Homo sapiens: one gene and its partner. The protein of the gene in region 2 binds, or shares a complex with, the protein of the main gene of each other region. Each region holds a gene or a part of one and is shown on either strand. Other genes may lie near its edges. A codon is read from its position in the direction of its gene.

Evidence for each region.
Region 1: the proteins of WNK3 (region 2) and KLHL3 are in contact, whole or in part, in a crystal structure (PDB 5NKP), measured with the Homo sapiens proteins. Residues at the interface, in NP_065973.2 of Homo sapiens: Glu537, Cys538, Glu539, Glu540, Thr541, Glu542, Val543, Asp544, Gln545, His546; in NP_059111.2 of Homo sapiens: Lys312, Arg339, Phe355, Gly357, Arg360, Thr386, Phe402, Gly404, Ser405, Gly407, Ser432, Ser433, Tyr449 (codon at 2,772), Gly451 (codon at 2,766), Arg454 (codon at 2,757), Cys456 (codon at 2,751), Ser481 (codon at 2,676), His498, Arg528, Tyr577.

What each region holds. Positions count from the first base shown.
Region 1 is NC_000005.10:137,631,371-137,635,124, forward strand, and holds part of KLHL3 (kelch-like protein 3), read right to left. Parts: intron 2,796-3,754; coding exon 2,667-2,795; intron 1-2,666. UniProt on the Homo sapiens protein: Substrate-specific adapter of a BCR (BTB-CUL3-RBX1) E3 ubiquitin ligase complex that acts as a regulator of ion transport in the distal nephron.
Region 2 is NC_000023.11:54,246,410-54,250,163, forward strand, and holds part of WNK3 (serine/threonine-protein kinase WNK3), read right to left. Parts: intron 3,723-3,754; coding exon 3,585-3,722; intron 3,226-3,584; coding exon 2,288-3,225; intron 1-2,287.

The sequences.
Region 1 (3,754 bases), on a different chromosome or scaffold from region 2:
TAGAAGTGGAAAACCTTTTGAAAAGTCATTTTCTTCACATGTTGGGGAATAGGTTGAAGTGAGGAAAAGTGGGAGTGGGGGACATAAGTTATCTCCAGACATGAACACTAATAGCTTGGCTTTCAATTCCAGACAGGCAAGCTCAGCTTTGTCAACTGAAGACTTGTCCTACTACTTCAGAGGAATAAGACTGATAATTTAGGGATTTAAAAAGCTAACTCTGGAGTCAGCATTACTAATTATATGACCTTGGGCAAATTACTCAACCACTGGCAGACCTCCTTTCTAAATCTGATAAGTGCAATTCATATTGTATCCACCTCGTAGGGCTGCAGTGAGGATTAAATGGATTGAGGCATAAAAAGTACTTGTTAGGACAGTGCCTGGCACATAGTAAGCCTTAACTTTCAAAAGATATAAACACCTTCATAGAAACATAAGGTATGATGAGGAGGAGCGTATTATCTCATCCATTCTCTAGTGATCCCCCAGGAAAGGTTAACTTATAAAGTACTGTGTCTAGCTGCAAAGGTGCTAGTAGGATTATATACAGCAAAATGAAAGGAGGAGGAGGAGGTAAAATAAAATGTTAAGTTGTTGAACCAATACCCACTCATGACTGATTAAAGAAATCACAGATTACACAAACTGGAAAAACATCCCATATTCATGGATTGGAAGAATCAATATCATTAAAATGACCATATTCCCTGAAGGAATCTACAGATTCAACACAATTCCTATCAAACTATCAACATCATTCCTCATAGAATTAGAAAAAACAATCCTAAAGTTTATACAGAACCAAAAAAGAGCCCGAATAGCCAAAGCCAATCTTAACCAAAAAGAACAAAGTCAGAAGTATCACATTACCTGACTTCAAATTATATTACAAGGCTATAGTAACTAAAACAGCATGGTGCTGGTACCAAAAATAGACACAGAGAACAATGGAACAGAATAGAGAACCCAGAAACAAAGCCACATACCTATAACAAGCTGATCTTCAAAAAAGTCGACAAAAATAAAACAATGGGGAAAAGACTCTCTATTCAATAAATGGTGTTGTATGTGGCTAGCCACATACAGAAAAATGAAACTAGACCTCTATCTCTTACCATATACAAAAATTAACTGAAGATGGATTAAAGACTTAAATATAAGACCTGAAACTATAAAAGTCCTAGAAGAAAACCTAGAAAAAACTCTTCTGGGCATTGGCCTAGGCAAACAATTTATGACTAAGATGCCAAACGGAAAGTGCAACAAAAACAAAAATAGACAAATGGGACTTAATTAAACAAACAAAAAAAGCTTCTCCACAACATAAGAAATAATCAACAAACAGTCAACCTACAGAATGGGAGAAAATATTTGCAAATTATGCCCCCCAACAAAGGATTAATGTTCAGAATATACAAGGAACTCCAACAACTCAACAAGGAAAAAACAACCCCATTAAAAAGCAGGCAAAGGATATACATACAGACATTTCTCAAAATAAGGCATGCCAGTGTGGCCAATAATCATATGAAAAAATGCTTAACATCGTAATCATCAGAAAAATGAAGATTAAAACCACAGTGAGATATCATCTTACAGATGGCTATTACTAAAAAGTCAAAAAAGGCCGGGTGCAGTGGCTCATGCCTGCAATCCCAGCACTTTGAGAGGCCGAGGCAGGTGGATCATGAGGTCAGGAGATTGAGACCATCCTGGCTAACAGGGTGAAACCCCAACTCTACTACAAATACAAAAAATTTGCCGGGCATGGTGGTGGGTGCCTGTAGTCCCAGCTACTCGGGAGGCTGAGGCAGGAGAATGGCGGAACCCGGGAGGCGGAGCTTGCAGTGAGCCGAGATAGCGCCACTGCACTCTAGCCTGGGCAACAGAGTGAGACTTCATCTCAAAAAAAAAAAAAAAAAAAAAAAAGTTTAAAAAAAAAAAGACTTTAGCATGGTTGCAGAGAAAAGGGTATGCTTATACACTGTTGTGGAAATATAAATTAATACAACCTCTATGGAAAAACAGTATGGGGATTTCTCAAAGAACTCAAAATATAACTACCATTTGACCCAGCAATCCCACTACTGGGTATCTATGCAAAGGAAAAGAAATCATTATATTAAAAAGACATGTACAGTTATTATGTTTAAAGCAGCACTACTGACTACCACAAAGTCATATAATCAATCTAAGTATCCATCAATGGCTGATTAAAGAAAATATAGTATGTATACACCATGGAATCTTATGCAACCAAAAAAAGAGTGAAATCATGTCCTTTGCAGCAACATGGATGGAGCTGGAGGCCATAATCCTATGTGAGATAACCCAGAAACAAAAAATCAAATACTGCATGTTCTCACTTATATGTACAGGCTAAATAATGGGTATACATGGACATAAAGATGAGAACAATAGACACTGGGGATTCCAAAAGGGATAAGTCTGGGAGGAGGGTGAAAGTTGAAAAATTACCCATTGGGTTCAATGGTCACTATTTGCGTGATGGGTACACTAGAAGCCCAAACTCGACCATTATGCAATATATCCATGTAACAAACCTGCACATGTACCCTCTAAATCTAAAATAAAACAAAAAAATTTAAGGACCCACTTGTGAGCAAATCAGACACAGCCAGCACCCCGAGGTTCTCCCATACCTGCGCCACTGCGGCGGGTGCTCATGTCCGCCACGTATATCCATTCATTGGTCGCTGGGTTGTACTGCTCCACAGTGCTCAGACACTGGCGGGAAGCTCCATCATAACCCCCAACAGCATATAGCTTCCCTGCAATAGACAAAGTGGCTGAGTGTGGTGCCAGGGATACTGGCATGAAACCAGAGCTCAGCTGAAACCCTATCTGCAACCAACTGGGGCACCCTTACCTCAGAATTCTGTTCCCTCTTTCTCCAGGGGACCACCAACTTACTCCTCAACCAAGCAAAGCATCCTTCACATTTCTTCACATATTCTACTTGCTCTTAAGCCATGAGCTCCTTAGAAGCAAACACTTAACGTCTTTCTAAATAAGTACCCGCAAATACCCAGCACAAAGCTATGGCCTGGCACCACTGGGGCTCAACATAATCTTGCTGATGAATTAGGTTAAATTTTCTCTAGAACAAGACACCAGCACCAGATAGATGGAAAGCTAGAAGGCCCCCAGCTATAGGCAGGCAGACCATCTTTCTGGCTAAAGGCTTGACATAGCAGATGAAGTAAATATGGAAAATTATTATTCAATGAGAACCCAAAACCTGTCTTAGCCATTGTCTCTACCCCTTCCACAACCTTGGCAGGTAGAGTGTGTGAATGGAGTGTTCTTTGTACATTGTGGGCCAGGGTGGCTGGAATTTTTCTGCAGACTACCCTGTGATCTCTGAGCCATGCACAAGAGCCCTGAGGTGCCGTCATTTACTTTTAAATTAAAATACCATTAAGCTGCTACCCAAGAGCATCATTTCTGCCTGGGGCTGGGGGCTGAGGGCTGAGAGTGAGGTTGGACACAGGAGGAAAAATTTGGCATTTGAGCTATCCCAAAGCAGAAATTCAAACATTTTGGGTTTAAAATTTAGTCTTAAAATGCAATGGGATGGTCTCTTCTGTGGGAACAGGGGGAGGAGTCACACTAGCTGTAGACTAAATAAATATCACCAAATGCAAATCTATTTAACAGGATTACTTACTCAGTAGATTTTTTGGTCACATGTGCTTTCTTGATGGACAGACACCAAGAATACTACTAG
Region 2 (3,754 bases):
AAAAGTGAGAGCAAGCTGTTAAGAAACATGGGGAATAATCCAAGAGGCCATATATCTCCTACAATTTCTAAATGGAAATAAGCAAGACAATGAAGGGGAAGAAAAAAAAGAAATGAAAATAGTTACCGGAGCTGAAAAAAGACACAAATCTTCAAATTCGAAACATCCACAAAAGTGATATACAAAATGAATGGGAAAGTGATATACCAAGATACAGTCTGATAATCAGAGCTCTAAGATAGTTCCCTAAGAGCAACTAGACCTGTGCTAACTGAATACAGTAGCCACTAATCACATGTGGCTGTCTAAATTTAAATTAATTAAATTAAATTAAAAATTCAGGCCCTCAGTTGCACTAGTCACATTTCAAGTGCTCAATAGTCATATCTGGTTAGTGGTTACTGTATTGGATAGTGCAGATACAGAACATTTCCACGTTGTAAAAAGTACAAGAGCATTGCAGTGGTCTAGAGTAAAAACAGGTTACCTACAAATGAATGATAAACAACTGACATCACTCTCATCAGGAAGGCTAATAAAAGACAATAAAACACTGTCTTCTAAATTGAGAAGAAAAAATTCTGATCCTACCATCTGTACTTAGTCAATCAAGTGTGAAGCAATATAAAGACATTTTTGGACATGCAAAAGAATACCAAATAGGATACTCATGCAATATATTTGAAAATATTACTCATAGAAGTATTTTAGGGGAAAAAAGAAGAATTCCATGACACCAGAAACAGTGGCAGCTAAGTATGATCCAGATATAGCAACAGACACTTGAAACAAATAAATGAATTCATTTGACCTTGACACTTGGGAGAGTCTCCTTCAAGCAACAAAGTTTAAATGACAGAAATAACAGTTCATTTCTTAAGATTCGAATCACATTATGTGATATTTATTATTTAAAATAATTTAAAAAATTTTTAAATCTTTAAATTATATGTATCAGTGGAATATTATGCAGTTGTTTCAAAAAGTTGAGTAAGATGGAACTATGTGTACTGACATGGATAGATACCCATAAATGAAAAAAATGCAGAATAGCATATATGTAAATAAGTATATGTATATAAATATTAACATGTATCTATATCTATATAAAGATACAATATATCATATATAAAAAGTATGTCTTTATAAATATTTGTATATTAATTAAAATCATGTCTGGAAAGATTTGTTAACAGCTGTGTCTACAGGTTTGGGGATGGGGTGGATTTTACTTGTACGTAGTACATATATACTATGTACAAGTATATATTATTACTTATATAATAACAAAAATGACAAAAAGATACAGCAATAAAGATTTAGAAAGATGTCCATGATCTACTGTAAAATGAAAAAATTAAGTTGCAGAACAGTATGTATACAGCACAGTATTTTTATGAATATAATGTTATATGTATGTAAATAGATCTGTATAAGCTTAAGAAAAGTCAAGAAGAATAAGCATCAAATTATTAGTGGTTACTTTTGTGATTTGAAGGGGCAGAAAAGGAAAATTAAAGTTCCTACATTATATAACTCATAAAATAAGTCAGGCCAGGCACAGTGGCTCATGCCTGTAATCCCAGCACTTTGGAGGCCAAGGCAGGTGGATCACGAGGTCAAGAGTTCGAGACCAGCCTGGCCAACATGGTAAAACCCCGTCTCTACTAATACAACAATTAGCCGGGCGTGGTGGCACGTGCCTGTAATCCCAGCTACTCAGGAGGCTGAGGCAGGAGAATTACTTGAACCCGGGAGGCAGACCGAGATCATGCCACTGCACTCCAGCCTGGGCGACAGAGCAAGACTCCGTCTAGGGTTTAAAAAAAAAAAAAAGTCATGGTATTAATGATGATTTTTACTTTCTTTTCTTCTCTTTTTTTGTCAAATTAAATCCCCCCAAACATGATTAAATTAAAAACCATAACTTTTTTTTTTAAAGAAGGAAACGGATAACTGGCATTTTAAGTGAAAATCTAAAAGTTCTTCCTACCCACTAAAACAATCCATGAGTCAGTTTTCATTCTGTCATTAATACAAATATAGACACTGCTTGCAAGTTCTTAGCTAATTCACCAGAGGGCTCTCTTACCAAAGATAGTTTGTCATCTCTACTGAGAGGTTCTGAACACCTGCAGCCTAAGTCATAGCCTTCTTAAATACCTGTGACCTCAGCATCTTGTGACATAGACCATTTCATCTCAAAGGACAGAATTTTAGAAGAGAAGGCATTTCTTTAAAACAATAAGCAAAGAGTAAGGAATTGGTTAGAAAGAATGATACTTACATGTAAACACAATTCGCTGGGTACAGAAGTTATCACATTCAGGTCCCTTTTGAACACTGATATATTAGCAGGCTGACTTGCAGCCACATTGGACAGAAGCTTAGAGCCTGTCTGTTGGAAATTAGGGGATTGTACAGGGCTATCTTTAATTCCACAGTGACTGATGGCTATGACTTCTGTCACTGGACAGGAGAGGGTATCTTCAGCAGAGGAAGAAAATGGAGAGTCTATGCTTTGGGTATCCTTCTGACTCTCGGGATAGATGCTAGAGATGCTGTGCTCCTGATAGAGCAAGTTTCTTAATTTTTCATCCAGAGTTTTAATTCGGTTGTCTGCAAACTCCAGTTTTGGAGGTCTTTCTCCATCTGATTCCAGGACAGTAGTGGGTTGAAGGGTAGTTGGTTCAAGGCCAGGGGTCTGAGTGGGAATGACTGTCTTAGGAGAACTTGCTTCAGTGTTCACTGTAGTTTCTCCTTCTTGAGAAATAAACTCTGCATCCATAGCTGGCTGCTGTACTGATAAGGTTTGAGGCTTTTGATCAAATGCCAGAGTTGTAAGAGAGTTACCAGAAGTCTGAGTTGATTCGCCAGGATGGGACATAAGTGCATCAGCCTGACTGGCAGTTTGGTGACATGGATACACAGGTATGAATATGCTTGCTTGTTTGGTGAGTCCCTCACATTCAGCTGGAACTGCACGAACTGAAGTAGTAGAGTAACTGGAACTATTAGTAACTGGTGCCATTATCTGCCTGTTATCTTCCACTTGATAAAGTATAGCTGGCTGCTTGGTTTCTACACTAGCACATTCAGAAATCTTACCATCAACCACATCCTTGTGTTCTGATTTGGAGGTGAAAAGTGCACGGTGGCATGGATTATTTTCTATAGTGAGCAATGTGTCCCGTGATATTTCCTTATTACTTGTGTTTTTTGGACCTGGAACAATAATAAAGAATGGCTAAGCACGTACTGACGAGTACAAAGCACAGACTAGTACCCTAAGTCAAAAGGAACAGGAGGACAAAGGGGCAAATGAGAACCTGTGTGAAAGTACTCTCGTAAATAAGACTCAAAACACAGAATTCAACCTGTCAAGGGAAATAATGTTTTCCTTTTTTCTCATAAATATTAAATAGGAAATGGCTTAAGTTGTATCCTAATATTAATGTCTTCAAAAAAGCTTATGAAAATTCTCATAAGCATAAAATTCCCATGGAAACCAGTTAAAGATATCATATGTATTTTGCATCCCATCCTTTGAGTCTGGACAAAGCTGGCAGAGAAGAAAAGCTTACTAGGAAGTGGATGTCGGCCAGGAACCGCAGACATGGAATGCTGAAGAGAAGGAGGAGACTGAGTCTCACGGTTTCTTATCGTCTGATTGATACAGAATCGCCACCGACCAACTGGGGATGACTGAGGAGCAGATTCATCTGCAGAAATAATTAGCAAAAAATAATATGCT